4 separate regions of the Homo sapiens genome follow, and all the other regions are linked to region 1. Evidence: fine-mapped expression QTL. A gene starts in region 1. Each other region holds a variant in brackets. All regions are shown on one strand. Distances are from middle to middle. Region 1 holds the start of GABRR2 (gamma-aminobutyric acid type A receptor subunit rho2). Region 2 overlaps UBE2J1 (ubiquitin conjugating enzyme E2 J1). Region 3 overlaps UBE2J1 (ubiquitin conjugating enzyme E2 J1). Region 4 holds the start of UBE2J1 (ubiquitin conjugating enzyme E2 J1).

Region 1 (8,352 bases):
ATTGTTTAGCTCCCACTTATATAACATGCAGTATTTAACTTTCTGTTTCTAAGTTATTTCACTTAGGATCATGGCCTCCAGTTCTATCCATGTTGCTGCAAAAGATGTTATTTCATTCTTTTTCATGTCTAAGTAGCATCCCATGGCATAAATAGATACCTTATTTTTTTCTATCCAATCCTTTGTTGATGGACACTTAGGTTGATTCTGTATCTTTGGTATGGAAGTTGCCTCCTTAGTGCAGGAGGCAGCACATCAGTCTCATGTCTTTGCTATCGTAAATAGTGCAGTGATAAACGTATTGTAAGAGTTAAAGAAAAAGGAAAGAAACATGAAAAGTGGCTCAACAGTCAAAGACAGGTTTATTTTGGAGAATAAACCTGAGAGGGGCTTCTGGCCGATTTTTGGTCAGGAGTGTTCTCTCTTACAGACTAAGGATATTTAAGGGTTTAGGAAGAGGGGAGCTTATTGTAGGTTCAGAGTGTTTCTATGTGAGGAAAAGGTTACTGTGGGGTTGAAATGTCTCTGGTTAGAGAGGAAGCTATCTCCGGGTTGGCATGTTTCTGGTTGGAGCGGGTTTATCTTAGGGGTTGGAATGTTTCTGGTTATTCTGACGTTAGCCATTAGGCTGATGTTTTGGGGCTGGATTTAGGCAGTTTTGTTTTGTTTTTTAATCAAGGGAAATTTAAAATGGTGGTGTTTGTCCAAGATGGTGAAGCTCCTGCTCTGTTACATATGAGTGCAGTATTTTTTGATATCTTTTGGGTATATACCTAGTAGTGGAACTGCTGAATTGAATAGTTGTTCTATTTTTAGTTCTTTGAGAACTATCCATTCTGTTTTCCATAGAGGTTGTACAAATTCACATTCCCACCAACAGTGTATAAGTATTCCCTTTTCTCTGCATTCTCGTGAACATCTTTTGTTTTTAGACTTTATAATAATAGCCATTCTGACTAGTGCAAAATGGTACCTCATTGTGGTTTTAATTTGCATTTCTATGATGGTTAGTGATGTTGAGCATTTTATTTTATATGCTTGTTGCTGCTTGTGTGTCTTCATTTGAAAAATGTTCTTGTCCTTTGCCCACTTTTTAATGGAGTTACTTGTTTTTGTTGTTGTTGTTGTTGAGTTCTTTGTAGATTCTGGATATTAGCCCTTTGATGCATAGTTTGCAAATATTTTTTCTTACTCTATGGGTTGTCTGTGTACTCTGTTGATTGTTTCTTTTGCTGTGCAGGAAGCTTTTGAGTTTAGTTAGGCCCCGTTTGTCTATTTTTGGTTTTGTTGCACTGGCTTTTGAGGACTTGGTCATAAATTATTTGCCCAGGCCGTAGGTATGTGGCTTTATTTCTGGATTGTATATTCTGTTCCATTGATCTATGTGTTGATTTTTATATCAGTATTATGCTGCTTTGGTTACTACAGCCTTGTAGCATAATTGAAGTCAGGTAAAACCTCTAGCTTTGTTCTTTTTGCTTAGGATTGGTTTGGCTATTCAGGCTCTTTTGGATTCTATGTGAATTTTAGAATTTTTTTTTTCTAATTCTGTGAAAAATGATTTTGATAATTTGATAGGGAATGCATTGAATCTGTAGATTGCTTTGGGCAGTATGGCCATTTCAATGATATTGATCCTGCCAATCCTTGAGCATGGGATGTTTTTTCATTTTTGTTTGTGTCATCTAGGATTTCTTTCATAAGTGTTTTGTAGTTCTTAAAGAGATCTTTCACCTCCTTGGTTAAATATATTCCTAGGTATTTTATTTTATTTTTGTAGCTATTGTAAAAGAGATTGCCTTCTTAATTTGGTCCTTGGCTAGATCTTTACTGGTGTGTGGGAACACTACTGATTTCTGTACATTAATTTTGTATTGTGAAACTTTACAAAATTCATTTATCAAATCTAAGAGGGCTTTTATGGAGTCTTTTTTAATTTTTCATCATCCTCCATGGTTGGATTTTGTGGAGTTTTTAGGGTTTTCTAGAAACAAGATCATATCATCAGCAAACACGGATAATTTGACTTTCTCTTTTCCAATTTAGAAGTTTTTTATTTCTTTCTCTTGCCTGATTGGTCTGGTGAGGACTTCCAGTACTATATTAAATAAGAGTGGTGAAAGTGGGCATCCTTGTCTTCTTCCACTTCTTAGAATGTTTTCAACTTTCCCCCATTAAGTATGATGTTGGCTGTGGGTTTGTCATATATGAGCTTTATTATGTTGAGATATCTTCCTTCTATGCCTAGTTTGTTGAGAATTTTTATGATGAAGGGAAGCTGAATTTTATCGAACACTTTCTCTGCATCTATTGAGATGACCACATAGTTTTCCTTAATTCTGTTTATGTGATGTATCATGTTTATTGACTTGTGTATGTTGAACCATCCTTGTATCCTTGGGATAAATCGTACCTCATCATGGTGTATAAACTTTTTGATGTGCTGTTGTTTTCAATTTGTGGTATTTTGTTGAGGATTTTTTGCATCTATATTCATTGGGAATATTGGTCTGTAGTTTTTTTTGTTGTTGTTGTGTCCTTGTCTGGTTTTGGTATCAGGGTGATACTGGTCCCATAGAATGAGTTAGGGAGAATTCCCTCCTCCTTGATTTTTTGGAATAGTTTCAGGAGGATTGGTTTTAGTTCTTTGTATGTTTGGTAGAATTTGTCTGTAAATCCATCTGGTCCTGGACTATTTTAGTTTTTGGGAGATTTTTTTTATTACTGATTCAATCTTGCTACTTGTTATTGGTCTGTTCAGGAGGTCTATTTCTTCCTGGTTCAATCTCAGGAGATTATGTGTTTCCAGAAATGTATTCATTTCCTCTAGGTTTTCTAGTTTGTGAGCATAAAGCTGTTCATAACAGACTCTGATGATCTTTTGTATTTCTGTGGTATCATTTGTAATGTCTCCCTTTTCATTTCTGATTGTGTTTATTTGGAGCTTCTCTCTTCTTTTCTTGGTTAGTCTAGCTAGTGGTTTGTCAATTTTCTTTATCTTTTCAAAAAAACAACTTTTTTTTTTATTGATCCTTTGTATCGTTTTATTGGTCTCTATTTCATTTAGTTCTGCTCTGATCTTTGTTATTCCTTTTATTCTGCTAACTCAGGGTTTGGTTTCTTCTGCTTTTCTCGTTCCTTGAGGTGCCATAGGAGTTTGTTAGTTTGTGATCTTTCTACTTTTTTGATATGGGCATTGAATACTGTAAATTTCTCTCTTAGCACTGCTTTTGTTATATGCCACAGGCTTTGGTATGCTGTACTTTTTTTCATTTCAAAAAGTTTTTAAATTTCTGTCTGAATTTCTTTGTTAACCTACTGATTGGTCAGGCTCTCTGCTCTTCTTGCACAAAGAACTGGGAGGGACTCTCTGGAATTTCCCTATCTAAGAAAGTTTAAATGCACTTAAGACCCCCTACCTAGGGATCTCACAAAATAACCAGGAAAAATCAACCATCTGAGAAGAGAAGAGACTGGGAGTTCTCACTGCACCCAGATAGACTTTTCATCTAGTCTTCTGAGGGCAGCTTTAAGAGATTACCTGTTGGACTTTATCTGTATAAGACAACTTTAGTTCCTGTGTAGTTCCACCCCTCACTTTCCTCCTGGGTCCATTCATCCTCCCTAATGATTTACTGTCCCTCAAAAGAATTGCCTACATCCCCCATCTCTTCCTTATGAAAAAGGGTATATAAATGTCTGTACCATGCTGGGTAATTGGGTAATCATGATGTGATTTTCCTCCATGCATGTTAATAAATCTGTATGCCTTTTCCCCTATTAATCTTCCTTTTGTCAGTTGATTTTTTGGTGATCCTCCATGGGGCAAAGGGAAAACTTTCACTTGGTCTCTACAGCTCCAGATCTATTTCTATAGTCTAGAAATAGAACTAGACTTTCTCCTGAACTCCAGGCTCATGCTCTAGCTTTTTTTTTTTTTTTTTTTTTTTTGGAGACGGAGTCATGCTCTGTCGCCCAGGCTGGAGTGCAGTGGTGTGATCTTGGCTCACTGCAGCCTCTGCCTCCCAGGTTCAAGTGATTCTCCTGCCTCAGCCTCCTGAATAGCTGGGATTAACAGGCACGTACCACCACACCTGGCTAATTTTTGTATTTTTAGTAGAAATGGGGTTTCACCACGTTGGCCAGGCTGGTCTTGAACTTCTGACCTCAGGTAATCCACCTGCCTCTGCCAAAGTGCTGGGATTACAAGTGTGAGCCACCGTAGAATTCTTGATATTATTGTTGACTTTTCTGTCTCTCACCTTCTACTCTATCTGCACAGGCACCAAATGTATGCTACCGCAGAACTAACTTGAGTATCTCACTCTTCTGTCTTCCTTTCTCTTCTTCCTTCTTCGCTTCCCTCAGAGCAGGACCTTATTCTCTTTTGTCATCATAAGTTCCCTGATTCGACTGATCCCAATTAGGAATTATTTCAAAAATAAAGTAGATCATGCCATCTCACTTTGCTTAAGGGAATCAAAGAGCTTCTTTTGATTCTGTCATTTATACATAGTAAAATCCCAATTCTGTTTCACTTACGGCTATCCCACCTCCTGATCTCTGTCCTCATCTCCCTATGTTTCTACCATGAAATTTTCCATTGCCAGGACATAGCAAGCAATGAGTAGTTTTTAAACATATTCTATTTTGTTCAGTAGGTTAGACATAACCACATGTATCTCTACAATTCTAATGTGCTTAATTCCATATCCCAGGATAGGAATAAAGCCTAATTTATGATTGATTTTATACATTTTAGGGTTAAAGGCCAAAGTTAATTTAATGCTTATGGTAGGAAGAAAAGCTTACATAATCATGAATTCTATGATTAATGTCATCCTTGAAACTAAAAATGTATTTTATGCTTTGATGTTTTCACTGGAAAAAGTTGATCTATATTTGTGAGAAAGGAAGTATCCTTGCTCATAGGCAAAGCATATTCTCTTAGCTCCATAAATAAATCAACCCTAAGGAAACAGGTCATTCATGTTTACTCAGCATTTCCTGAACACATTTATGTACCCATCTAAATGTCCACCAAGTCCTCTCTGCAAATCTACTTGGAATCCGAGCTGACCCCCTGGTGGATGGGACAGACTGGTTTTATGCAGCCAGAAGATGGACCAATAATCTCAGCACAAAGCTGGCATGTTCAAGAGATTTAATTTTTTATATAACAGCTTTAGCCAAAGCTATTCTAGGATTCAGTGGAAGCAGAATTTCATGAGGACAAACTTCTCGACTAATGGCCAATCACTAATCAGCAGGGAGGGCAAAGCCTGGTGTTTGTGTCATGGCCCGGAGTGGAGGGGGTGAGTGGGGCGTCAGTATCAAATAGTAAATCGGGACAACTAGCCTGGCCAGCCTTGCCCTCACAGCCCCTCAGAGCAGCCCGTCAGGAGGCAGCAGATGGATCAATGGTCAAGCCAGGGGGGATTTGCTCTGCCACAGGCTACTGGAAAGCAGCTTTTTGCCTCACAGATGTCCACAAAATGCCTTATTTTACAAGACTCATTTTGTTCTTGTTTTGCTTGATGGTTCTCGTGGAGAGCAGAAAACCCAAGAGGAAGCGATGGACAGGGCAGGTGGAAATGCCCAAGCCAAGGTAAAGTCATAGGTGGGAAAGGAGGGAGGTTACCCTGCATAGTAGCAGCAGCAGTGGCACAGTGGGATGGCTCCCCAGGGGGCTAAGGTCCTATTGAGATATCGCCCTATGAGAATGAGAACCCAGCTACTTCACTGAACGCAGCCTCTCCCTGGGCACACATACTCTATGTGTCACAAGCATTGAGAGCAGAACTAGACTGGGATGAGCCTTCCTTCGGATGCCTGCGTTCAGCCAAAGCATTTTGATTTGAGGCAGATATAAATAGTTGGAGACGTAGTGGGTAAAATCATTCTCTGTACAAATCACATTGTGCTGCTTTGTTTCTCAGGGTTACAACCGATGACCTGCTAAATAATTACACTCAAGTATTTTGGGGAGAACTGTATATAGGAACCTAGCCTGAACTATTAAGAAAAAAATGCATACGGGAGTTGTCTTCCTTAAATTATTTGCCAGAGAATAACTTTATAATGATATTGGGTTTCATTTTACTGTTTTGAATCTTAGAAGAGGTGTTCAGAAATTTGCTTAATTATCAGAAATATATGTGTGAACAACAGTGAATGCAATTTCATGATGTAATGGAGACATTCCCAAGAAATAATAGCCCAGGATCTGCATTCAAAATCATTACATTACAAATCTAAGTTCCTTAGGAAGTTTATTTTGAATTGACATACGAAGCATCATACTCCAGGCCTGAAGTAGACATAAGGACTGTTAGACATGGAGATAAGAAAAGAACAAGCAGCTAAGATATAAACACCATGTGTGGCATGTTACACATTTATTTTCCATTCTACTAAGCATCAGATAAACTAGTGGTTTTGAATATAAATTAATATCTTGAGGCACATTTTCTAGGTCAGTCCCCAAACATTTTTGAACATGCGCTGCTGTCAATGACAAGTTTTTGAAACTGTACCTCTAATACATGCATATTTACTTACAAATCACATACATGTGCTGTTATAAATATGTATGTTAAAGTTTAATTGATTTCTTATTTTTAGAAAAAAAAAAAAAAAACCCTGAATATAAATAAGAGTTACAGCCTCTACTTCCAGTATCCCAGTGGCAACTGCTGCTCTGGGAGAGGTTATTACTCTCTTTTGTTTATTTGTTTGTTTGTTTTTTGAGATGGACTCTCTGTCACCCAGGCTGGAGTGCAGTGGCGCAATCTTGGCTCACTGCAACCTCCACCTCCCGGGTTCAAGCGATTCTCCTGCCTCAGCCTCCCGAGTAGCTGGGATTACAGGCGTGCACCAGCATGCCTGGCTAATTTTTGTATTTTTAGTAGAGACAGGGTTTCACCATGTTGGCCAGGCTGGTCTCAAACTTCTGACCTCAAGTGATCCACCCACCTTGGCCTCCCAAAGTGCTAGGATTACAGGCAGAAGCCACCACACCCAGCCTATAATTACTCTCTCTGGAGCCTAGTCCTACTCAGCGGAAGGCAAACAGATCAAAACCCTCAGAGGCCCTGCTCTGAACAACCCATGCGGGTTGGGTTGCCAGAACCATAGGCTGTTAAACTGGAAGGAGCCTCAGATGTCATCGGCCCAGCAAGTCCCCTGAACTCTAATTTTGGGAAACGTGAATGGCTGTTGAGTGAAATGGGGTTCCAGGGCCACCAAAACGTGGAAAACCCTGGTTTAGACCATTTTCAACAGATGTCTCTACAGCAGAACTTTTAGAACCTTTGTTATGCAAATAGGCACTGTGAGAATCTTGAAGAGAGGGATAAATTATGCAGGGCTTCTCAGAAACAACTAAAAAATCCACAGTTTTTTGGACTGTCTTGTGGGATTCCTACTCCATGGAGCACACACTGGGAAACTGTCCAAGTCAACTCATTTGACAGATGCTGAAATGGCTCAGGGGCATGAGTAAGTCACACGGCCTGCTAGTGGCTTCCCAACACTAGAATGTAGGTTCCTGATTTACTTAGACTGGAGGAAAATCTGTTCAAAACTGTCTATTCTGTAAGAACTGGGGTTCAGCACAAGTCCCTTGGGGTGCCCAGGGACCCCACTCAGCAGCCTGGGCTTGGCGGCACCTCCGTCTCACTTTTCCTCAGAAGTCCACAGTCTCATTCCCAAACCCGCGCATGAGCCTGGGCACAGCTGGGCTCTGACTCTTAGTGGGGAGGAGACTTTGTTGAAATCCAGCCCATGAGGTGTTAAAGTGGGAAAAGATGAACACATACATTTCAAGGAAGTAAAATATTTATTAAACTGAGGCTGGGGGAAAAGGACAGGGAATGTGGTTCTGGGCCTTTCTGCATCCATGAGAATGCACACACAGTCAGACAGTCAACAGGGTGACGCCTCCTTGTGAACATTTCAGCCAAGCCTCTGACAATTTATTTTTCCAAATTACTTTCATTATTGACACGCAGGTGTCAAGCTATACGAACAAATAAGAAAATGACCAGACCCCTTCTGATTACAGTCTTAGAGTGCTTTCTCTCTTTAGGATTGCTCCTTTTCTTAGAAGTCCTGTTCACACACACGGTCACACTCACACACATACCGCATGCCACATATGTGACTTCACGGGCACACACTATGCACATGGTCACCCTCACACATGCACACTGTGAAGACTTCTTTGAACCTGGAAGCCTTCCCTGCCTCACCCCAGCCAAGGCATGCACACAGAACAATGATTCCGCCCAGCAGCTGCTTTTACAAAGACCAGCCCCTATTTTCTGCTGCTTTGTGTCTCTGTGTACTAAA
Region 2 (8,062 bases), 18 kb before region 1:
TGGGTTTATGCCAACAAAAGGAGAGGGAGCCATAGGTTCTCTAGATTACACTCCTGAGGAAAGAAGAGCACTTGCCAAAAAGTAAGTTTTGCATTTCATTCTTCTTGAGGTCTGAATAGTATTCAGGGTAATGGCTATTAGGAGGTAGGGCCTACCTCTTACTATGTGACTTATTTTCTGAGTGACTGTAGCTACAGGATCTTATCTCAGTTTTGCTCTTTTAGGAATTCAGTTGTAATAATTTCCTTGGAGTGACCAGAATCTAAGTAATTTATTTAATGCTATCTAGTCTTAAAAAGTAGTTGATACTATTTCACTATTTTTAAAAAATTCAGTGGGAGATATATTCTCCTGGAAAACAATACCAGTCATTTGTTTCCACTATGGCATTATAGATGGAAAAGAACCAGAGCAATTATTTGTAGCTTTCCACAAGATTACAAACCTCTTGAGGGCCAAGAGGTAATCCACTTTATCCATCTTTGCATCTAGCTCATAGCAAGTGCTTAATAAATGATCTGGAATAAAGCAAAAGAGATTTTATCAAGTTGTGATTGCCCAGTGGCAATCACAAACAGAGAAGTGATGCCTTCTCTGTTTTTTTCAGGTGCAGGTGCACTTTTGTCTATATGACCAAGATCAGTCCTTCCATTCAGAGTAGCCCCTCTTTGAGTAGTGCTGATACCTAATTTTTGATGTTGATAATTTTTCTGCTCTGGAGTCTGCTGCCTACCACCCTTCAGACATATTATGTTAATTAAATTATATCATATTTTACCCTAGCACACCCCAGAGTAGGCCCTCTACAGATATTTGCTAAATCAGTTAGATTTTAGCATCTGGAAGATTTGGTAGACTTCTTGGTCTTATAAGCAACTTTTCTTTTTAAACCTTATTTCCAAACTATGGGTATGTACTTTATTTATACAGCTCTTCATAGATTACACTATGTACTTTGAATACATAGTATTTGTTTTCATTCGATTTACTACGTTGGTTTTTTTATCTTGATGCCTTTATCCAGTTGATTTCATGTGCGAGGTAAAAAAAAAAAAAAAAGAACTGGAGTTCTTGTTCTTCTAGGCTTCTCACTGTATATTCTAGATTCTCAGTCTATAATAGAAACCTTTTAAAAAATGATTTTGGGCCGGGCATGGTGGCTCACACTTGTAATCCCAGCTCTTTGGCAGGCCAAGACAGGTGGATTGCTTGAGTTCAGGAGTTCGAGACCAGCCTGGGTAAAATGGCGAAACTGCAGCTCTACAAAAAAATACAAAAATTAGCTGGGCGTGGTGGCACGTGCCTGTAGTCTCAGCTACTTAGAGACTGAGGTGGAAGGATTGCTTGACCTGGGGAGGTTGAGACTGCAGTGAGCCATGATTGTGCCACTGCACTCAAGCCTGTGGGACAGAGTTGAGACCTTGTCTCAAAAAAAAAAAACAAAGATTTTTGCATTCAACCGTGGTAGCATGCTACCATTGTGGATAAACTAATACATTCAAAATAAACACTCCCCTTAAGGTTCATCTGACTCAGTTAAAAGTGAATACATTTTGAAGCAAATAATTTGTATATAACCAATTCTCAAAGGTGTGTGGTCAACAGTGCCACTTCTGGTAAAACAAGAAATACTCATCAATAAATACTAAATTAGGCTGGGCACAGTGGCTCATGCTTGTAATCCCAGGACTTTGGGAAGCTGAGGCAGGAGGATCGCTTGAGCCTAGGAGTTCTGGACCAATCTGGATAACACAGGGAGACACTGTCTCTACAAAAAAAAAAATAATAATAAAATGAAATAAAAAAAAAAAATAAAATAAAATAAAAATTAGCGGGGTGTGGTGGCACACACCTGTGGTCCTAGCTACTTGGGAGGCTGAAGTGGGAAGATCACTGGGGTCTGGGAGGTTGAGGCTGCAGCAAGCCATGATTGCACCACTGCATTCCAGCCTGGGTGATAGAACGAGGAGACCCTGTCTCAAACAAACAAACAAACAAACAGAAAAACTAAATTATTGCTACTTTTACATATATTTTGTTTATATGATATTTCATAATTTTAAATAGCATGTTCTTCAAGACCTAAGGTTTTTTAATAGAACTAGAAGTACTATGAAAAACAATTTTTTAGAAGGAAGTTTAACAGTGTAACAATATATGTTTTATATATGATGCATGTTTACTTTCAGTCATTCATATCCTCAGAGGACTCTTGTAAACTTCAAGGAAGTTTTGACTATATCTGGAATACAAAGGGAAAAATGGAAAAACAAATATATTTTAGAAAATAATCTAGTTAACAGACATATCCTGAGTCTCTACCTAATGTATAATCAGCAATAAATTAAGTCTTTGGATTTTCTGCAAGTTCTCCCAAGTCTTTCAAGTTATACTGCTATTTGTGAGGGGTTTTTTTTTCCCTAGAAATATCTGTAAATTCTATGTTTAATTAGTTTCTTTACTGCTTTATATATATTTCTGCTAACAGATAATTTGATCTTGTTAAAGGACTTTTTTCACAGCCTTAAAATAGGTTTGTTATATGTGATCTCAAGGACAGTATAATAGACAATTTTCTCATTGTATAGATGTAAAACTTATTTTTCTTTAGATAGTTTATTGGAAAAAATAGC[A/G]TCTGAGCCCTGGATTTTTTTAAAGCCAGCCTAACATTTACTTGTCTCAGGACTATAATCATTACATTAATTTTCTAATTCATAGCATGTGGATAAATGTGATGTGGAATTTTCCAGTGTTCCTTTCTTTTAAGTTTAATGATCGAGCATTTGAGTGTCTCAGTGAGAGGGAATTAAACATTTAACTATTTATTTTCATTTAAAAAATCTTTTTCTACTAGATCACAAGATTTCTGTTGTGAAGGATGTGGCTCTGCCATGAAGGATGTCCTGTTGCCTTTAAAATCTGGAAGCGATTCAAGCCAAGCTGACCAAGAAGCCAAAGAACTGGCTAGGCAAATAAGCTTTAAGGTACTATAAATTCTTAAATAAATGCTAATCTTGCAACCCTTTTGTTTACTGCTGGATTCTGCATAGAAAGGAAAGCGATGCAGTTCTATTACAATATGACATTTGCCAATGTTTTTCTTTTTTCATATTTTTATATTTTTAATTTCTGTGGTTACATAGTAGGTGTATATATGTATAGGGTACATGAAATGTTTTAATACTGGCATGGAATGTTTTTCTTATTACAAAATTCCTAACTACATTCATGAAAGCTTTATAGAATAGTGAGGGAGTGAAACTTGAACTCTGGTATACAATGCCAGGGTTCAAATCCCAGCTCTGTTGCTTATTAGTAGTATGATGTCAGACATATTAATTAACCACTTTGTGCCTTTTTATTATCTATAAATAATAATGGTACCTAAATCATAGGATTGCTGTGAGGATTGAATTAATATATGTAATACATGTGTTGCATTCAGAACTGTCCCTGGTGCTTAATAAATTCTAGCTATTATTACAGAATATATAGATAAGCAACAAGAAGAAAATGATGGCCGGGCGCGGTGGCTCACGCCTGTAATCCCAGCACTTTGGGAGGCCAAGGCGGGCGGATCACCTGAAGTCAGGAGTTCGAGACCAGCCTCAACATGGAGAAACCCCGTCTCTACTAAAAATACAAAATTAGCCAAGCATGGTGGTACATGCCTGTAATCCCAGCTACTCGGGAGGCTGAGGCAGGAGAATTGCTTGAACCTGGGAGGCAGAGGTTGCGGTGAGCCGAGATCGCGCCATTGCACTCCAGCCTGGGCAACAAGAGCGAAACTCCATCTCAAAAAAAAAAAAAAGAAAAAAGAAAAAGAAAATGACATTCATAATCTCACCGCCAAGAAATAGCTACTGTTAATATTTTGGCATCCCTCCTATATATCCCTTTTTTCTGTATATGTTTTACCCGAACATAGGATTATATAATATTTTAATACTTTGAGTATTAAATATTTAATTATTGAAGGTATTAGCTGGGCGCAGTGGCTCACGCCTGTAATCCCAGCACTTTGGGAGGCCGAGACAGGCAGATCACGAGGTCAGGAGATTGAGACCATCCAGGCTAACACGGTGAAACCCTGTCTCTACTAAAAATACAAAAAATTAGCTCGGCATGGTGGTGTGTGCCTGTAATCCCAGCTACTTGGGAGGCTGAGTCAGGAGAATCGCTTGAACCTGGAAGGTGGAGGTTGCAGTGAGCCAAGATTGTGCCTCTGCACTCCAGCCTGGGTGACAGAGTGAGACTCCATCTCAAAAAAATATAAATAAATAAATACATACATACATACAGACGTAAAGTATTAAGTATTTAATCCTTCTGGAATTTAATTAGCTTCACAAACAGAAATGTCAACCTGCATTAAGCAGCATGCTCTCTTCCTCTTCCCTCTCCACTTCTCTATGGACTGTCTGTCTTTCCAGGTCCAGTTCCCTTCTCTTTTATTGTAGTGCCTGGAGGAGGAGTTGCTCAGAACATGTTTACTTTCTTCCTTCTGAGGATTCCTATTACACTTAAAATTGCTTCTGAAAAATCTCAGGACCAAATGTGTTTTGTACATGAGAATTTTTCAGACTTAAGAAAAGATCTTACATATACCATATATTAACTAACCTGCCGTGCGATCTGGGGCAGCACCTCATAATCAAATCCATTAGGATTTCTTCAGCAAATCTGGGAATATTACATTAATGTGGGATTAATGTTTACACTAATGTGGGATAAAGACTATTCATAGGTTCACATCAGCTCATATCAGGCTTTGCCTAAAAATTACCAAAAAAACCTTGAGTTTTGAGAGCTTTTTAGCATTGTGGATTGTGAACCATGGGTGTTAGTTTTGTCCCTCATCAAGTAACGGCTTCTTGAGAACAGGTGTTGTGTATGCTTCTTCCTATGATACCTAGTACAGTGTTGGACACAAGAGTGCTCAGTGATTAACTGCCTGATAATAGATATTAAACTAGCAATTAAAATAAATCCAACAGAGAGGATTTAGCAGGTTGTAGATTGTGTATGTTTCCTGTTGTTTCCTGTTGTCACACTGCTCTTGGGTCTATCTTGTTTATAGGCAGAAGTCAATTCATCTGGAAAGACTATCTCTGAGTCAGACTTAAACCACTCTTTTTCACTAACTGATTTACAAGATGATATACCTACAACATTCCAGGGTGCTACGGCCAGTACATCGGTATGGCTCTTATCTTTTAATATATATGTATGTCTCTATCATTATCACTGTTTGCAATAGGAGGAGAAGATCCTGGATCAAATATCTGAAAAATTTGGTTCTCTTAACAACTGGATTCTAACTCATCAGTCCCGCTAATGAATTATTATGTTGAGCAAGTTGTTCATGCTTTCTGGCCTCAGTTTTCTTTTTTTGTTAAATGGGGCTGGATTAAATAATTTTTGTCTTGTCCCTCCAGAATTCTGTGATTCTCTGAAAAGTTAATTTTAATATAGTGTTAGACTGAATAAAACAAAATATCCATATGTTAGCCACTTTCTAAATAGACACTATTTTTGGCAGGATTGTTCAGCTGCATTAAGGTACTGACTTAATAAAGTCGTAGAGCCAAAAATTTACTTAGACTTGCTCTGTCCAACACAGTAGCCACCAGCCACATGCAGGTGTCTACATTTAAATTTAATCAAAATCAAGTAGAATTTAAAATTCAGTTCCTCAGTCACACCACATTTCAAGTGCTCCATAGCCACATGTGGCTAATGGGTACCATATTGGACAGTGTAGACATAAACATTACTATCATCACAAAATTCTGTTGGACAATGCTACCTCGTATATACTAAGTGTCCAATAAATAATTGTTGAATAAAAGAATGAATGCTATGAGTGTTGTTAGTGGTGCCCTGACCTGTTGTCTAAGAAATTGTTTGGCCTAGGTGATCAGAGAGAGTGATTTAAAAAATATGACTGGATTGGTGCCAAAAAATAAGGATTATGGGAAAAAAATGATTTTCCTTCCTATATATAAAAGATTAACTGTCTTTGGAAGTCTTTTTGGTAACAGATTGTTTGGTTAAGTAGTCACATTTTTTTTGTTGTTGTTTCTCCAGTTTATTGAAGACTTTAAAGGGTGAGGGAAAATTGAAATAGAAGTTGGGCAAATATAGATTTGCCCTTTACCCAGCAATAACGTACGTAAAGTGGGAGTGAATAGTCTTGAGTGAGTCTCTCCTATTCAGAGAGTGAGCTGGGCAGAGAAAAGTTGGTTGAAGAAGAACAGGGTGGTAGTCTAGGGGGACTGAAGATGGAGGTCCAAGAAAAAAGTGTGTAGCGATGAGTTTAAATCATTTTTGTGTGATCCCAATGTAATTTTATGAATTGCAGGGGAAAACAATGAATTAATTTTAAGGTCAATATGTTTTAGTTCAAGATATTGAAAAAGCTTTCTAATTACTTTTTATTTCATAGTTTTTTTTCTAATAGAAGCATTCTATTACAAAAAGGAAGGTGGTAATCTTTTTTCACCTTTTAGGACAGCCTCCTAATGTTTGTGATGTATTTAAATCTTTTGTGTATTTTCAATCTATGTTAAGTCCCCTTGTTACATATTCCAGTTATACTTATTCCAGTTGTAATTTACTTTGTAATTATTTATTGTCTATCTCTCTTCCCAGAATGTAAGTTCTGTGAGGGTCAGGGGTCTCTTTCCGCTTCTCCACTGTATCCCCAGTGCCTGGCTTAGTGCCTTCTATATAGTAGATTGCCAATGTTTGTTTGTTGATTGAATGAATGAATCTTAGGATTGGTACTTTAAAAAATGCTAAGAATACAATTAAATAAATCAAGAAGTTTAAGTAAATTAGAGTGTACAAATAATGATGTTATTATAGTAGTATTTCTTGTTTTGATTTAGTACATAAAACTTAGAATTCTTATTCATAGATACAGGTCATTAATTGAGACTATTTTTAGTGAAAATACCAACAAGCAATAAATTGTCTAAAATTGCAAGTTAAGTTTTTAATTATATTTACATATAAACTATCTCAGAGTATGATTATATAATTTGACCACTATGAAAGTAACTGAAACCTGGTTTGGCTAAGGGTGGTTATTTTACATTAAGTATAATATAAATTAATTGAGATGTTATACATCAAATCCCAGATAAGCTATGATTTTTTTGTTGTTGTTAGCCTGAAGGAGAGGCAAGAGATTGCCACAACTCTAAATACCTCAGATAACATCAGGCCATCTGTTGCTTTTTAATGCAGATATTTTAGCATCAAAAAGCAATGGGAAATGTAGAAATGGGAAAAACACTGAAGGCAGTTTTGTTCTTGCAGTCTGTCAGATTTTCTCCTTTTCCCAGGGTAGGGATCGAGGTTCTGAATAAGCCATTTCATTTTATAATAAAAAGCAAAACTCCCTCACACATGCTGGTTATTCTAGAAAAATTTATATATATATCACTAGGGACTTAACTAAGAATGTGATTTTTTATCTTTTTAAGGGAGAGTCTCACTCTGTTGCTCAGGTTGGAGTGCAGGCATGTGATCATAGCTCACCGAAGCCTCAACCTCCTGAGCTCAAGTGATCCTCTTGCCTTAACCTCCCAAGTAGCTAGGACCACAGGTGGGCATGACCACACCTGGCTAAGTTTTAAAATTTTTCTGTAGAGATAGTGTCTCACTATGTTGGCCAGACTGGTCTCAGATGCCTGGGCTCAAGCAGTCCTCCTGCCTCAACCTCCCAAAGTGCTGTATGATTGTTTTAAATAGGAAAAAATTTAGAATTTTATAATATCAAGGCACTTAATTTTTAGTTAGTGATATACCATCCAAAAGGCATCTGAGGCTGGGCACGTTGGTTCATGCCTATAATCCCAGCACTTTGGGAGGCCAAGGCAGGAGGATCGCTTGATCCCAGGAGTTCAAGACCAGCCTGGGCAATGTAACAAGATCCCATCTCTAAAAAAATAATGATTAAAAAAATAGAGACAAAAGGCATCTGAAACATAGGAACCTAATTAAAACATTATATGTATATACATATTTTCATTAAGCGTATGTGTTAAAATAT
Region 3 (5,588 bases), 26 kb before region 1:
CCAGTTTTGAGAAGCCTTTTCCCTAACTCAGCCATCCCACTGCAGTATCCTGACATGTTTTAGCACCAAAAGCTTGAAATGAGAGGGGTTGGGATCCAGAGTGCATATCAAAGGATTGAATTTTGAGAGCCAATAGAAGACAGAGGGTGCAGATACAGATAGGATTGTAGATTGTGATAGGCATCTGAGCAGCTCCTGCTAGCAGTCATTCATCAGGGAGATAAAAAGCTGGGTGCCATTAACTGAAAGAGAGGAGAAATTAGACTAGGTGGGAAATAATCTTGGAGTGCTAGGTGGAAAGAGTAGGCTGGAAGGCCTACTAGAGAAATGTGGGGACATTAGGTGGCATTGTATCCCAGTAGAGGTTGTTGGTAATGACTTGTAATGGCATTACTGCACCATCCTCTCTGACTTTTTTTCCTCCTTTCAGTGATGCTCAGCTGTTTGGGTATAGACAGCAAATAAGATGGTTGGGTTGGGTCAGGCACAGTTGGATTTTATTAAGGGAGTGTACAAGAGGGACTCCTAAGAGCCAAGGGTGTGGATAAAGAGGAAAATGAATATAAGTATAGGAGGGGTGAAGAAAGTTGTGGGGTCAGTGGACTGGAGGTTTTAGTGAAGCTGAAGGATCATTTCAAGAAGGAATTTCATCGGGGCTTTGGAGAGTCAGTGAATTCAGGGGACAGTCCATTCATTTAATGCAAGATAGTGGATGGAAAGTCCCAAGAGTTGGAGGATATAGAGGTGTTTCCTGTTCACCGAGCATGAGATCCAGAGAATACATTTTTTGTTAATAAAGACATTTTAACAGGTAGAGCCAAATTGCCTGTGTTGGAATCCCATCTCTGTCATTTACTAGCTGTGTGACTATATAATCTCTCCGTGTCTCGGCTTCTTCATCTGGAAAATGGGGATAAAAATAATACCTATCTAGTAATGTTGTATTAAGGGTTAAATGAGTTATTAATGTCTGTAAAAGCACTTCAATAAATACCACCATATAGGAAGTATATATAAGTACTTATTAAATAAAAATAGTGTCTTCACTATATATTTAATATATAACTCTTTTAAAGTGTTAATGCCTAGCAACTGTTTCCTTCCTCTCCCCCTCTATTTATTCCCATAATCTTATAATTAAACCTTTGCCATATGCTCATTTGCACTAGTTCTCTACACATTTTTTCATTAGGCTCGTAAGACTGTGCTAATCATTCAGAAAAGTATATTTTAAATATCTCTATTTTATGAATTTTATTTTAGCTGTTAAACGTTTAATGAAAGAAGCGGCAGAATTGAAAGATCCAACAGATCATTACCATGCGCAGCCTTTAGAGGTTAGTTTCTATCTCCATGTTCTTCATATGGATTTTAATATTTAAAACAAATTTTTTAAAATTGCTTTTCATTGCTTTGAGTCATTACAGATGTGTGTGATGTAGTTTGACGTTTTATTCACCATATTTCATGAATATTTCATTAGCCATTCCAAATCACTTTAGAAGAAACGGATTTTGTGGTCTTTATAAAATGGGTCTCAGATGCTAAGTTGAGGTTAGATCTTTTTTTTTTTTTTTTTTTTTTTGAGGCGGAGTCTCACTGTGTTGCCCAGGCTGGAGTGCAGTGATGTGATCTCGGCTCACTGCAACCTCTACCTCCCAGGTTCAAGCAATTCTCCTGCCTCAGCCTCCTGAATAGCTGGGATTACAGGCCCCCACCACCACGCCCGGCTAATTTTTGTATTTTTAGTAGAGACAGGGTTTCACCATGTTGGTCAGGCTGGTCTCAAACTCCTGACCTCGTGATCCACCCGCCTTGGCCTCCCAAAGTGCTGGGATTACAGGCGTGAGCCACTGCACCCGGCCGAGGTTAGATCTTGAGTCTGAGGGAGGGGAGGTGGAAAGAACCCCAGATACTTTACAGTTTGGAAGCCTTTTGATGGGTCTCCGTAGCTACTCAAGGCTTTTTGTATAAACATCTCGGCCTCTCTCAGTCTTCTCATTTGTAAAAGGAGGGTATTTAAATATACCCAGGCAGGTTTTCATGGTAACAGTGGGAATAAAAATATCATAACTTAAGTGCAAGTATTTTGTAAACTGAAAAGTACATGGTAACTGTAAGATGACATTAAATACATTAGTATTACCATTTTATAAATAAGCTCTTAGGCATCTATAAGGGATAATTTTTAAAGATTTGTTAAAATAACCCAAACATAGTAATTTTTTGATTATATAATTATCATAATTTGCTATTCTTTCAAGGATTAATTTCCAATTTAAACCTGTAAGTTACTTATGAATATATAACAACACTCAGAAATTTTTAATGTGTTTATTATAAAATATTTTAGCTCAATGGAACATGAAAGCTAGATTAAATAGCTTTTACTTATAAATTTAATTTATCACTTATAGTCTCGAGACATCTCATGCATTAGAAACTATACTAGCAATAATATAAAGCATTTAATTTTTCTTGCTTGGTAATATTTCTAATATTCAGATAAAATGATCAAACTTTTCAATATTATTAATTCCTTGTGGATTATTGTTTTTGTTCAGGATAACCTTTTTGAATGGCACTTCACGGTTAGAGGGCCCCCAGACTCCGATTTTGATGGAGGAGTTTATCACGGGCGGATAGTACTGCCACCAGAGTATCCCATGAAACCACCAAGCATTATTCTCCTAACGGTAAGAATTTTGGATTTTTAGAGTGCTTGTGGCTTCACTCTTCCTGGTAGCTGCAAAATATAGTAAGCAAATCATTTTCATTAAGAAATAATAGAACAGTATAATTTTGCTTTTGGGGTCCAGGCCC[T/C]GGGACTACAATTTTTTTCCTCCAAAATAATTCCTAGGAAGCTGATGCATCTGAGAAGTAAAAATGATACAACTGAATGCATAAATGTCATATCATGGTTGTTAGGATTCAATGAATTAATATATGCCAAGTGCTGGGCATACACATCTGGCACTTCATAAGTACTCACTAAAGGGTAGCTAATGTTATTGTACCTTGTAATCATATTGTCTCCTTTAACTTCCCACCTTTCTTACACTCTCTTCCTCAGTTTTCTCATCTTTACAATGAGAATAATGATACCTACCTCATTGAGTTTATGTGGGATGAAAAGTATCAAGATCTTATTGTATAGCTCTTAGAATAGAGCCTGACACAGAATACTCAATAAGTGTTAGCATTATTATTACTGTTTATATCTCAGATTTTCTCTCTTTCTCTCCAAATTTACACATCTTTTCTTCATGTGAAGGAAAACTTTTTTTTTTTTTTAAGAGACACGGTCTTTCTCTGTTGCCCAGGCTGGAGCGCAGTAGCACGATCATAGCTCACTGTAGCCTCAAACTCCTGGGCTCAAGCTATCCTCCCACCTCAGCCTCCTGAGTAGCTGGGACTATAGGCACATGCCACTGCACCCAGCTAATTAAAAAGTTTTTTGGTAGAGACATGGTCTCATTGGTCTTGAACTACTGGCCTCAGGCAGTCCTCCCATCTCAGCCTCCCAAAGTGCTAGGATGACAGGTGTCACCATCATACCTGGCCAAGGAAAACTATTGATCTAATTCCTCTTTAATTGTTAAGCTTTTCTTCTCTCATTTCCTTTAACTATGTTTAATTATCCCCTAACCTTGAAAAAAGCAAAAACAAACACAAAAACCATTCCCTGTATCTGTTATCACTTTAAGCTGTGCCTATTTTTCTCTTTGGTAACCTCCAAGGCATCCTTTCCGTAGTTTGGCCTGCTGCAGTCCACCTTCCACACATAGTGCCCTGTTGAAACATGAAACTACACCAATCTCAGAGACCAGTTTGAGAAATCTCACTGCTTCTCCTCAGCCTTCATCCTGTTCTCAGTTAAACATCTTACCCACACGGAGTAGCAAATGGTGAAACAACAGGTATTCATCAATAAATACCAAATTAGGCCGGGCGCGGTGGCTCACGCCTGTAATCCCAGCACTTTGGGAGGCCGAGGCGGGTGGATCATGAGGTCAGGAGATCGAGACCATCCTGGCTAACAAGGTGAAACCCCGTCTCTACTAAAAATACAAAAAATTAGCCGGGCGCGGTGGCGGGCGCCTGTAGTCCCAGCTACTCGGGAGGCTGAGGCAGGAGAATGGCGTGAACCCGGGAAGCGGAGCTTGCAGTGAGCCGAGATTGCGCCACTGCAGTCCGCAGTCCAGCCTGGGCGACAGAGCGAGACTCCATCTCAAAAAAAAAAAACATAAATAAATAAATAAATAAATAAATAAATACCAAATTAATGCTGCTTTTACCTCTATTTTGTATAACAGAGAGAACATTTGTTTAAGAGCCAATAGGCCTAGATTCTGACTGGTGCTCTTTCCATTACACTATGGGTGGGTTACACAATGTCTTTAAAATTGTTTTCTCATCAGTCAAAATGAATGTTGTGTTTGGTAATTGTAATCACACCATAAAGTACCTGACATATAGAAGCTGCTTAATAAGTATTAGCTGATATAGAGAACTGCTAATGCTGGCAGTAGAGTTGGAGCAGGGTCCTGGAGACACTCTACTGTGTCAGGAGTCATTTTATTTAGTTGCTAGATCATGGGGAGAGCTAAGTGGTCTTCGGGGAGGGAGGGGCTGGTGCATGGGGAGACTGGTGGTGGTGGAGGACAGTAGTTAGCAGCAGCTCTTTACCAACAAATACAGGTATATTTCAATAGTTAGCCAATGGTATGGTCATACTAACCACACTGGCTGAGAATCAGCCCTGATTTTCAACATTACACTCTTTCTGGTTCACTTCTTTTTTGAAAAGTCTTCTCCAACTTTCATTCAATAAGTATTTATTTATCCTTTCATTCATCACTCCTCTGAAAATCACACCTCTCTCAGAGCCTTTCTCCCCATGTCTTTCCTCACTAACATCTAGTTAGGTGATACTGAGTCCTTAGGTTTCGTCCTGGCCTCTTGAATGTCTTCTCTTTTAGATTCTTTTTTTTTTTTTAACTTGAGATAGGGTCTCACTCTGTCACCCAGGCTGGAGTCCAATAGCATGATCACAGCTCACTGCAGCCTTGATGTCCCACACTCAAATGATCCTCCCACGTCAGCCTCCTGAGTAGCTGAGACTATAGTCACACATACCACGCTTGGCTAAATTTTTTTTATTTTTATTTTTTGTAGAGACAGGGTTTCACTTTGTTGCCCAGGCTGGTCTCAAACTCCTGGCCTCAAGTGACCTTCCTACCTTAGCCTCCCAAGTGCTGGGATTACAGACATGAGTCACCATGCCTGGCCTCTTTTAGATTCTTAACTGAGCCTAGCTCCATACTAGGCACAGGGTAGGACATTAGTAAATCCTCTCCCCTCCCCTCCCCTCCCCCACTCCTTCCCTCCTCCCCTTCCCCCTCCCCTCTCCTTCCCCCCTCTCCTTCCCCCTTCCCCTCCCCACCCCTCTTCCCTCCCCATCCCTTCCCCCCTCCCCTCCCCACTTCCCTCCCTTCCCCCCTCCCCTCCCCTCTCTCCTCCCCCATCCCCTCTCCTCCCCCCTCCCCCCCTCTCCTCCCCTCCTCTCCTCTTTTTTTTTCTTTTCT
Region 4 (8,352 bases), 33 kb before region 1:
ACAGAATAAAACTTGCCCAACCTGATTAACCCTTTCTATCCTCCCCACCTTCCCAATCCCTCCCTCCTTTCCTTTAGTAAGGTCCCTACTCCTTAAGTCTTTTGAACTCAGTCCTCTCTCGATCCCACACATTGGACAATGAAGCAGTAAGTGTGTCCTTTGAAGTTTAACCTTTCATATTTGTATGCTTTCCCTCACATTAAATGTAATTCCTTTTTTTGACAGCTTTTACATCTAAACAAACCAAAAAAAACAAAACTCCTGCAATGCCTAAAACATGTCGTGCACCTAACACACTACCCGAGAAAAAAATTGTTATGAATATCCAACTCTGGCCAGAGCCGTGGCTCACGCCTGTAACCCCAGCACTTTGGAAGGCCGAGGCGGGCGGATCGCTTGAGTCCAGGAGTTCGAGACGAGCCTGGCCAACACGGTGAAACCGTGTCTCTAACAAAAATACAAAAAATTAACCGGGCATGGTGGCACACACCTGTGGTCCCAGCCACGCTGGAGGCTGAGGTGGGAGGATCGCTTGGGCCCGGGAGGTAGAGGCTGCAGTGAGCCAAGATCGCGCCACTGCATCCCAGCCTGGGCGACAGAGCGGTGACACCGTCACACACACACACAAAATAAAAAATAAAAAAAATCCTATTCCATTTCCTTGTCACTGGCTTTCCCCCTCCTCACTTAACCCCCGCCCCTCGCAACAGCAACTGAATCTAAAAACAAAGCCTTTCCCAGACCCTGCGGGACCGCGCGCGGGCAGCCGGCTGCGGACAGCTTTGCAGCCGGAGCCCGGCGCCCCCTCCGAGCTCTCGAGGGCCCGGGGGTCCCGGACCTCGCCTACAGCGGGCAGGGCCGGGACGAGAGGACGAGGACGCCGCTCGCTCCTGCACCTCCCCAAGCCGGCTTCGCCGGGCGGGCGGCGGCTGGGTAGTGACCGACCGCCACGAAGCTACTGCCACGTCAGGGCAACTTCACAAATCCCGGACGAGGGCGGGTGACGCAAGCCGGGCGGCCGCGGCAGGGCTGGGCCTGCGACTACCCGAGGAGGCTGACCTCCAGCCCGGGCGCCCGGTTCAGCGCCGCCCCGGCCGGCGCCGGTGCCTGCCAGGCACTCAGGGAGGCGGGGGCGCAGTGGAGGAGGCGGCGCCATCGCGAAGCGAGCGCCTCGCCCGCACTCAGCCTTGCCACCCCGCCCGCAGTCCAGGCTGGACTGGGCGGCATTTGCCGAGGCTCCTCGGCCAGGCCCCGTCCGCCCGAGCCGCGCTGAGACCCGGGCAGCGGCCGCGTGGAGAGGAGGTGGCAGCGGCCCGGGAGGCCGGAGCCAAGCCAGCGACCCACCATGGAGACCCGCTACAACCTGAAGAGTCCGGGTGAGCAGGGCTGGGGCCCCTGGGCGAGGAGGGCGGAGTGACCCTGGACCCCGGGGTGGTCGCCGCCTCGGTCCCCTCGCGTCTGGCGCCACTCGCGGCTCAGCTCCTGGTTTCGCGCTCTACGCGAGACCGCCGCCTGCCCGGGAAGTACAGGCCGCAGGGCGAGGTGGCCGGGTGGACGTCCGCTGCCAATCCCCCGGCCGGCCAGCGCGCCCCGCAGCACCCAGCCTCTCCCTTTTCTCATCTTCGCCTGGTCCCGTAGAGCTGGGTCAGAAACTCATCCCTGAGAACAGGTGTAAAGGTGATGTCGGTGGGCGATAGTCATCAACCCCCTCGCTGTACCTGGTCGCTATTCCCTCCCTGTCGCTGCCACCGGACTTCTATTTACTTCTATTTACTGCCGGCTGATTTACTCACATTTGAGGAGTTGGTCGTTTAAATATCCTATTTGCAGCACTTGGGCGAATACAATTACAGACATAAAGGAAATGTTCTGTAACTAAACCAGTTAACTATAGAGCTAAAGCAAAACAAAACAACAACAAAAAAACACCTCGTTGAGCCCTGTTCTTGAGAGCTAACCTTGATTTTTGCCAGACTGGCTAATATGAAATGTATCTGTATTCAGTCGTAGCGATTCCTTTCCTGCATTTAATGATCCTGCTTTATATTTACACAAGCAGTCCCAGCAATCCTAGCCTCTAATTACTTTCTGGTGCATTATAAAGATAAGCAACTAGCTTTCTCAGCTTAATAAAACAGGCTTGAAATGAATCATTGGATCCTCTAAATGGTATTTTTTCTATCTGTACCTTGATACATTTTGTCAGGGGGAAGAAACTCCACAGTTAACTCTGCATGATAAACTCTAGGATATTAGTGATGATTTCACCAACTTTTGCTGTTGCTTAAAATTTCCTTCCAAAAAAAGCTGTTTCTCAGTAGGAATTAGCAAGACTAGCATCCTTGTGGAAAGAGTTGACACTGTGAATCTTTGGGTTTTTTGTAAGGTTTCAGAATATGCAAAAACCCCAGAAAAGCCTGAGGATATTGATTGGAGGGAGCTTTGTTAGCCTGAGTGCTGTCAGGCTAAGAAATGTCCTTAGGTGACCAAGTGTGTAGAACTGGTCATAATATTTTAGGAGCCACTGACTCCTTAAAAAAATCTGATGAAGACCTGGCACGGTGGCACACGCTTGTAATCCCAGCACTTTGGGAGGCTTGAGCCCAGGAGGTGGAGAGCAGCCTGGCCAACATGGTGAAACCCCGTCTCTACTAAAAACACAAAAATCAGCCGGGCATGGTGGTGGCGCACTCCTGTAGTTCCAGCCACTCGGGAGGCTGAGGCAGGAGGATGGCTTGACCCGGGGAGGAGGTTGCAGTGAGCCGAGATCGCGCCACTGCACTCCAGTGTGGGCGACAGAGCGAGACTCCATCTCAAAAAAAAAAAAAAAAAAAAAAAAAAAAAAGAGAATCCCGGGGTGGGGAGGGAGGAAGAAAAGACCAAAGAGAAAGAGGGAAAGAAAAGCTTAATTTTTAAGCTAGATGGTAAAATGATTGAATTATTTACATTGTGGTATATTTAACTGGAGCTGTTTGGGTAAAAATGTATGGTGGCTCCCTGGTCACACGGTTCCTTAGGACAGCAGAGGTGCTTAGTGAAAGGTCCAGAGGATAATGCACATGTGAGTAGTAGTGCAGTTTAGAATGGAGAACTGGTGGAACCCAAGAGATTGTTGTCAGAAAACATCGCTCAATTTCGATAGGTTAGACTTAATACTATGATGATAAGCTTTTAAAAATCTCCAGAATTTTGTATATTTCCAAAGTATGTGAACTATTGTCAGCTGGTTGAGCTTTGGTTGACATGCTTCTAGCTGTGTCATAAATTGCTTCCTTTTTCTGGTTTCATTTCCTCAAAGATAGTGTTGCTGCTCTAAAAAAAAAAACACAATGCTTCTTAAAAATCTATTTTTGTTAGTGTGTGAATTATTTGGAGTTCATGGAGAAGTTGAATTAGGTAAGATATGGGACTTACTGAAAATGCTGGGAGGCATTGTGAAAATACTTCCTTCCTTTGCTTTATTCTCAGTCCTGTGGTATTTTTAGAGTAATGCCTGTGTGAAGGGGAGCAACTGAAAACTCCAATTTCCTGTGTATGGCAGGGTGCACACACACACACACGTAAAATACCAACATACCAGACAAACAAAAAACAACCACACAATGTGAGGGATATAATCTTTTACTCTTTATCTGATGTGGGATTGTCTTTGATGTATGAGTGGAAAGATTAAGTGAAGACAATACAGATAGCTGGTTAAGGGCCAGTGTACTAGCATGTGGATATAGTAAATTTTTTCATTTCATAGGTGGGGAAACTTTTTGCTTTATGGTTTTTTTTTGGAATGGACTTGTGATTATGGATAGAGCTGTTGTGTAGGATCACCTCACAGTAGTTGTCTGTGGTAGTTGTCAGTAGTTGTCTATGGATCTGCTACTGTAGTAGCAGTAGTTGTCTATGGATCATGCTACTTGTCTATAATCTGTCAATAGTTGTCTATGGATCAAGCTACTTGACCCGTGTTTGGGTCTGCTCTGGCCAAGGAAGTAGGGTCTTATAGTACAAAGTGAAGAAATGTGTATAAAGCACCTCCTTTGGCAGCTTCTTCATCAGGGGGCCATTGACATGTGCAGCAGGTGGTGGGAGTATAAGAGACTGGTGCAAAAGTACCCACTGCCTCCACCAGAAGTCTAAGAGTTACCTATCCATGCCATTGGTGTCAACTGCACCTTCCCACTAATCCACTCAAGGTTTCATGTCCAACTCAGGCCCTTCTCGTAAGCTATAGATACACAGAACTTATGGTGACTCAACATCTTCATTTCCCATAGAGTGAAAAAAATCTCTGTAAGTATAAAGACAAAACTCATCAGTTTTCTTCTCCTCCCCTAAACTTGCAGTTTACCCTAGTATTTCATATCTCAGGGATAGACAGCACTCAGGCACCTATGGGAGTCATTTTTTATTTCTTGGTCGCTTCCTTGCTCCATCCCTGCCCTGAAACACACAACTCAATACACACACAGAAACACATATATCTAATCAGTCACTGTTGTCACCAGATCAATCAAAACAAAAACTGATTACCCCCAAATTGAAAAATTTTCAGTAGCTTTCTGATAGCTGTCAATAAAGTTCAAAGTAAACTGCTTAGCTTGGCCTACAGGGCTGCTCATGATTGACCCTGCCCTTCCTCACCAGCCTCACTGTCCACCACTCTTATGCTCTTCCTCATTTTCTTTTTTTTTGAGGCAGGGTCTCCCAGCCTGGAGTGCAGTGGTGCCATCACAGCTCACTACAGCCTCAACCTCCTGGGCTGAAGTGATTCTTCCACCTCTGCCTCCCGAGTAGCAGGGACCACAGGTGTGTGCCACCACACCCAGCTAATTTGTGTATTTTTTGTAGAGACGAGGGTTTCACCATGTTGCCCAGGCTGGTCTCAAACGCCTGAGCTCAAGTGTTCCCTCCACCTTGGCTTCCCAAAGTGGTGAGATTACAGGTGAGAGCCACTGCACCAGGCCTGC[G/A]TTTTTACCTATCCATTTTGCCTGAATGACTCTCTAGCTGGAGTAGCTTTTCTCACTTAGGTGCTTTGGTTCCTGTTGGAACCTCTGCTTAGAATGCCTTCCTTTAAATCCATCTGAAATTCCTATAGTTCTTCAAGCTTTAAGGTTCAGCCTTGTCTAGCTCCCCTAGGCAGACTAAAGTAGTTCCTATATATACTTGTACATATATACTTGGTCAATATTACCACTTGGTTGTAATTATTTTCATGTCTTTCTCTACTGACTGTTACGGAAGACAAGAAGCAGGTCTTGGTCATTGTTTTATCTCCAACACTCAGACATTCTTTAAATGTTTGTTGAACTGATACATTTGCAGGGTCCTCCTGGGCAGAAACATCACTCTGTAGGCATTTGCTTAAGTACCTTCATTATGGGAGCAGGAAGAGGCAGTTAGGGAGCATGCCTTCCTTAATATACCTGTCTCCTGCATTTCACTCATGCTTTGGGAATTGATAATATCAAGATAATTGCTTTTGAAGAGGAATCCATATATGGGAAGCAGTGGCCTGTAGAAGATCCCTTTATTTTTAGCTGTATACAAACCCCAATGTGAGGCTAGTGAGCTAGCCAAGGTGTGTGAAGAATGCTAATGCCTAGGCCCACAGCACCTAGAGCATGGCTCCAGAGTGTCCATGTGGCCTCTATAAGAAAGAAGAACAAGAGCAGGCATCCAGGTGCCACCCCTTCCTTTCCTGGCACATCTTATCTCACCACAGTGAAAGGATTCCATGGAAAAACCTTTCCAAGAGATAGGAGAGGAGCTGGAATAAAAGTTTCCTCTCTAGCCATGTAGAAGCAAGAGATGGAGTATCAGGAGGGGCAGACTATGCTGTAGCCCGGTTGCCAGGCAGCACTGTGAACCATGACTGTTTCCTAACAGTGGTATTTCTCCTCAGGAGCCAGGGAGCCATATCATAAGGCCAGCGAAATCTGCTGAGGCATGGTTTTGAGTTAGGAAGAATCATTGAGAAGGCCTTATATACCAGTCCATTTTCAACCTTAATGACTCAGGGACTGGGCAGGAAGGAGGGGTGAAAAGGAAAGGAGAATTTTGTGGAGAAATTATTGACTCTTATTTGACAGATGTAAACATCAGATCAAGTGACTTGTTCAAGGACTTAGAGCTACAAAATGTCAGAGTCAGAATTTTAATGCAGCTCTAAATCGAGTCCCTGTTTCTTTTCACTGAAGCATTCATAATATATGTTATTTTTGCAAAAAAAATAGCTTATGGAAACAAGAGACTAATCTCACCTTTTGGCTACATGACCTTAGCTCTTACATGGTATGTGCCTGAGTGACTTATGAACTAATTAGCTATTTAGCTGTTGAACCAATGATTGTTCCTTTACAGGATTGGTACAGATACATTCTTATAACAATTCTGACCCTTTATACATCTCTCATAATATCCAGGTACAAGTTTTGAGTGTTTATTTTCTTCTCTCCTGTTGAACTGAACTGAGTAGGGAAGAGGCAGAGAAAATGCGATAAGGGTATAGAATGACATAAAATCTGACTTCAGCTTAATCATTATTGAGTTCAGCCAGTTGACGAGGAATGAAGGAAAAACAATCTTTTTGGCATCTCCAAACTAATTAACTTCATAACAGCTTCCATAATTGCATTTCTATCTAATAATATTAACTTAAAGGAATGATATGTTTATGTGGCTTTAAAGCAGGGTTTTCCATCTTTGTTCTATGGGTCCCTTCAGGAGTGAAATGGAAGGACAGGGAGTAGATAGTCCGCAGGCCCTTCCACTGGCCTCTGCAACCAAAGCGGCTCTGTGGTTTTTGTTTCACCTGTTGGGGTTCTCATTAAGCTTTCTTTGAATGAAGGATTTTGTTTTATTAAATAAGTTTAATTGTTTTATTAAGTAAGTTTAAAAACCATTGCCTTTAATCGGATTCTGAGAGCTATGTTGAGAGAAGATAGTAAAATTTAATTCAACTAATATTTGAGTACTTACCATGTGCTAAGCCCTGAGGAGACTGTACTGCTACAGCTACACTGTCATTACTATTGCTTAGCAGGAAAAACAGATATTAAACAAGTAATTACAAGTGAGATGAACTTCATAAGAGGAAAAATACAGTGTTATGATGGCATAGAGCAAGGAGACTCAACCTGGTCTCTAGGGCAGTGGTTTCTAAACCTAACCAGAGTAATTCAGAGAGCATTCCTAGTCTCTACCCCTCCCTAGGACGCCTCAGAGATTTTGATCTGCCCAGATTGAAATCTCCAAGCACTGTAGGGGGTGGGGGGCAGGGGGCAACCAGGGAAGGTGTCATAGAGACATTCCTGAGAAGTTACTTAAAGGTCTAGGGTAGCCAGACTAGACGGTGAGGCGGAGGATGGGGCCGGAGCAGCCTGGGCCCTGAGGAAAGCTGTATAGAAAGGCTGAGAGTGGAGGGGAGGTAAAGTGTGTTCAGGGAATTGACCAAAGCCCAGTCTCTAGACTTGGAGGGAGAGGGTGTCTCAGTATGTACATATTTCTAATATAGCATTTATCATTCTGTTTTGTATTGACTGCACCTCCCAGCCGTCAGTCTTTAGTGACCAAAGCCATATTTTGTTTACGCATGAAGCTGTAGCATCTAGTACCTAGTAGGAACTCAAGAAATAGTTGATGATCCAGTGAACAAAGTCTCTGCATATAGGGGCTTAGTTCAGAGTAAGAAATGGAAAAGAATATTAATAATTGTGAAGTAGGATAGTAACAACTTTTTTTTGGCCAGGCATGCTGATTCCCGCCTGTAATCTCAGCACTTTGGAAGGCTGAGGTAGGAGGATTGCCCGAGACCAGCCTGGGCAAGACAGGGGGACCCCAGCTCTACAAAAAATTTAAAAATTAGCCAGGCATGGTGGTGCATGCCTGTGGTCTCAGCTATTGGGGAGGCCAAGGTGGGAGGACTGCATGAGCTTGGGAGGTTGAGGCTTCAGTGAGTGAGCTGTGTTCGTACCACTGCCCTCCGGCCTGGAGGGCTTTTTTTTTTTTTTTTAGACGTAGTTTCGCTCTTGTTGCCCAGGCTGGAGTGCAACAGCACGATCTCAGCTCACTGCAGCCTCCACTTCCTGGGTTTAAGCGATTCTCCTGCCTCAGCCTCCCTAGTAGCTGGGATTATAGGCATGTGCCATCACACCAGGCTAATTTTGTATTTTTAGTAGAGATGGGGTTTCACTATGCTGGTCAGGCTGGTTTCAAACTCCTGACCTCAGGTGATCCACCTGCCTCGGCCTCCCAAAGTGCTGGGATTACAGGCCTAAGCCACCGTGCCTGGTTTTGTTTGTTTGTTTGTTTGTTTTATTGAGATAGTCTCTCTCTGAAGCCCAGGCTGGAGTGCAA

What was found. PIP is the estimated chance that this variant, and not a neighbour inherited with it, causes the effect. A credible set is the group of variants that fine-mapping cannot tell apart.
Region 2: its variant is the best candidate, but not a certain one, in a credible set for the expression of GABRR2 in thyroid (GTEx, PIP 0.67).
Region 3: its variant is the best candidate, but not a certain one, in a credible set for the expression of GABRR2 in skeletal muscle (GTEx, PIP 0.75).
Region 4: its variant is the best candidate, but not a certain one, in a credible set for the expression of GABRR2 in whole blood (TOPMed, PIP 0.69).

What each region holds. Positions count from the first base shown.
Region 1 is chr6:89,312,309-89,320,660 of GRCh38, reverse strand. It overlaps GABRR2 (gamma-aminobutyric acid type A receptor subunit rho2), which reads left to right and starts at 5,362. Exons shown (of 9, transcript NM_002043.5): 1 at 5,362-5,608. The coding sequence starts at 5,496.
Region 2 is chr6:89,330,224-89,338,285 of GRCh38, reverse strand. It overlaps UBE2J1 (ubiquitin conjugating enzyme E2 J1), which reads left to right. Exons shown (of 8, transcript NM_016021.3): 5 at 1-81; 6 at 2,855-2,984; 7 at 5,081-5,200. Among named protein-coding and RNA genes, the nearest start is that of UBE2J1, 18 kb to the left of the region's middle. The variant A/G (reference allele first, on the strand shown) is at 2,634.
Region 3 is chr6:89,339,432-89,345,019 of GRCh38, reverse strand. UBE2J1 (ubiquitin conjugating enzyme E2 J1) reads left to right here. Exons shown (of 8, transcript NM_016021.3): 2 at 1,264-1,337; 3 at 2,565-2,696. Among named protein-coding and RNA genes, the nearest start is that of UBE2J1, 10 kb to the left of the region's middle. The variant T/C (reference allele first, on the strand shown) is at 2,824.
Region 4 is chr6:89,345,563-89,353,914 of GRCh38, reverse strand. It overlaps UBE2J1 (ubiquitin conjugating enzyme E2 J1), which reads left to right and starts at 1,193. Exons shown (of 8, transcript NM_016021.3): 1 at 1,193-1,376. The coding sequence starts at 1,346. RefSeq lists silencers at 732-831, 842-1,551, 1,582-1,641 and an enhancer at 938-1,887. The variant G/A (reference allele first, on the strand shown) is at 4,965.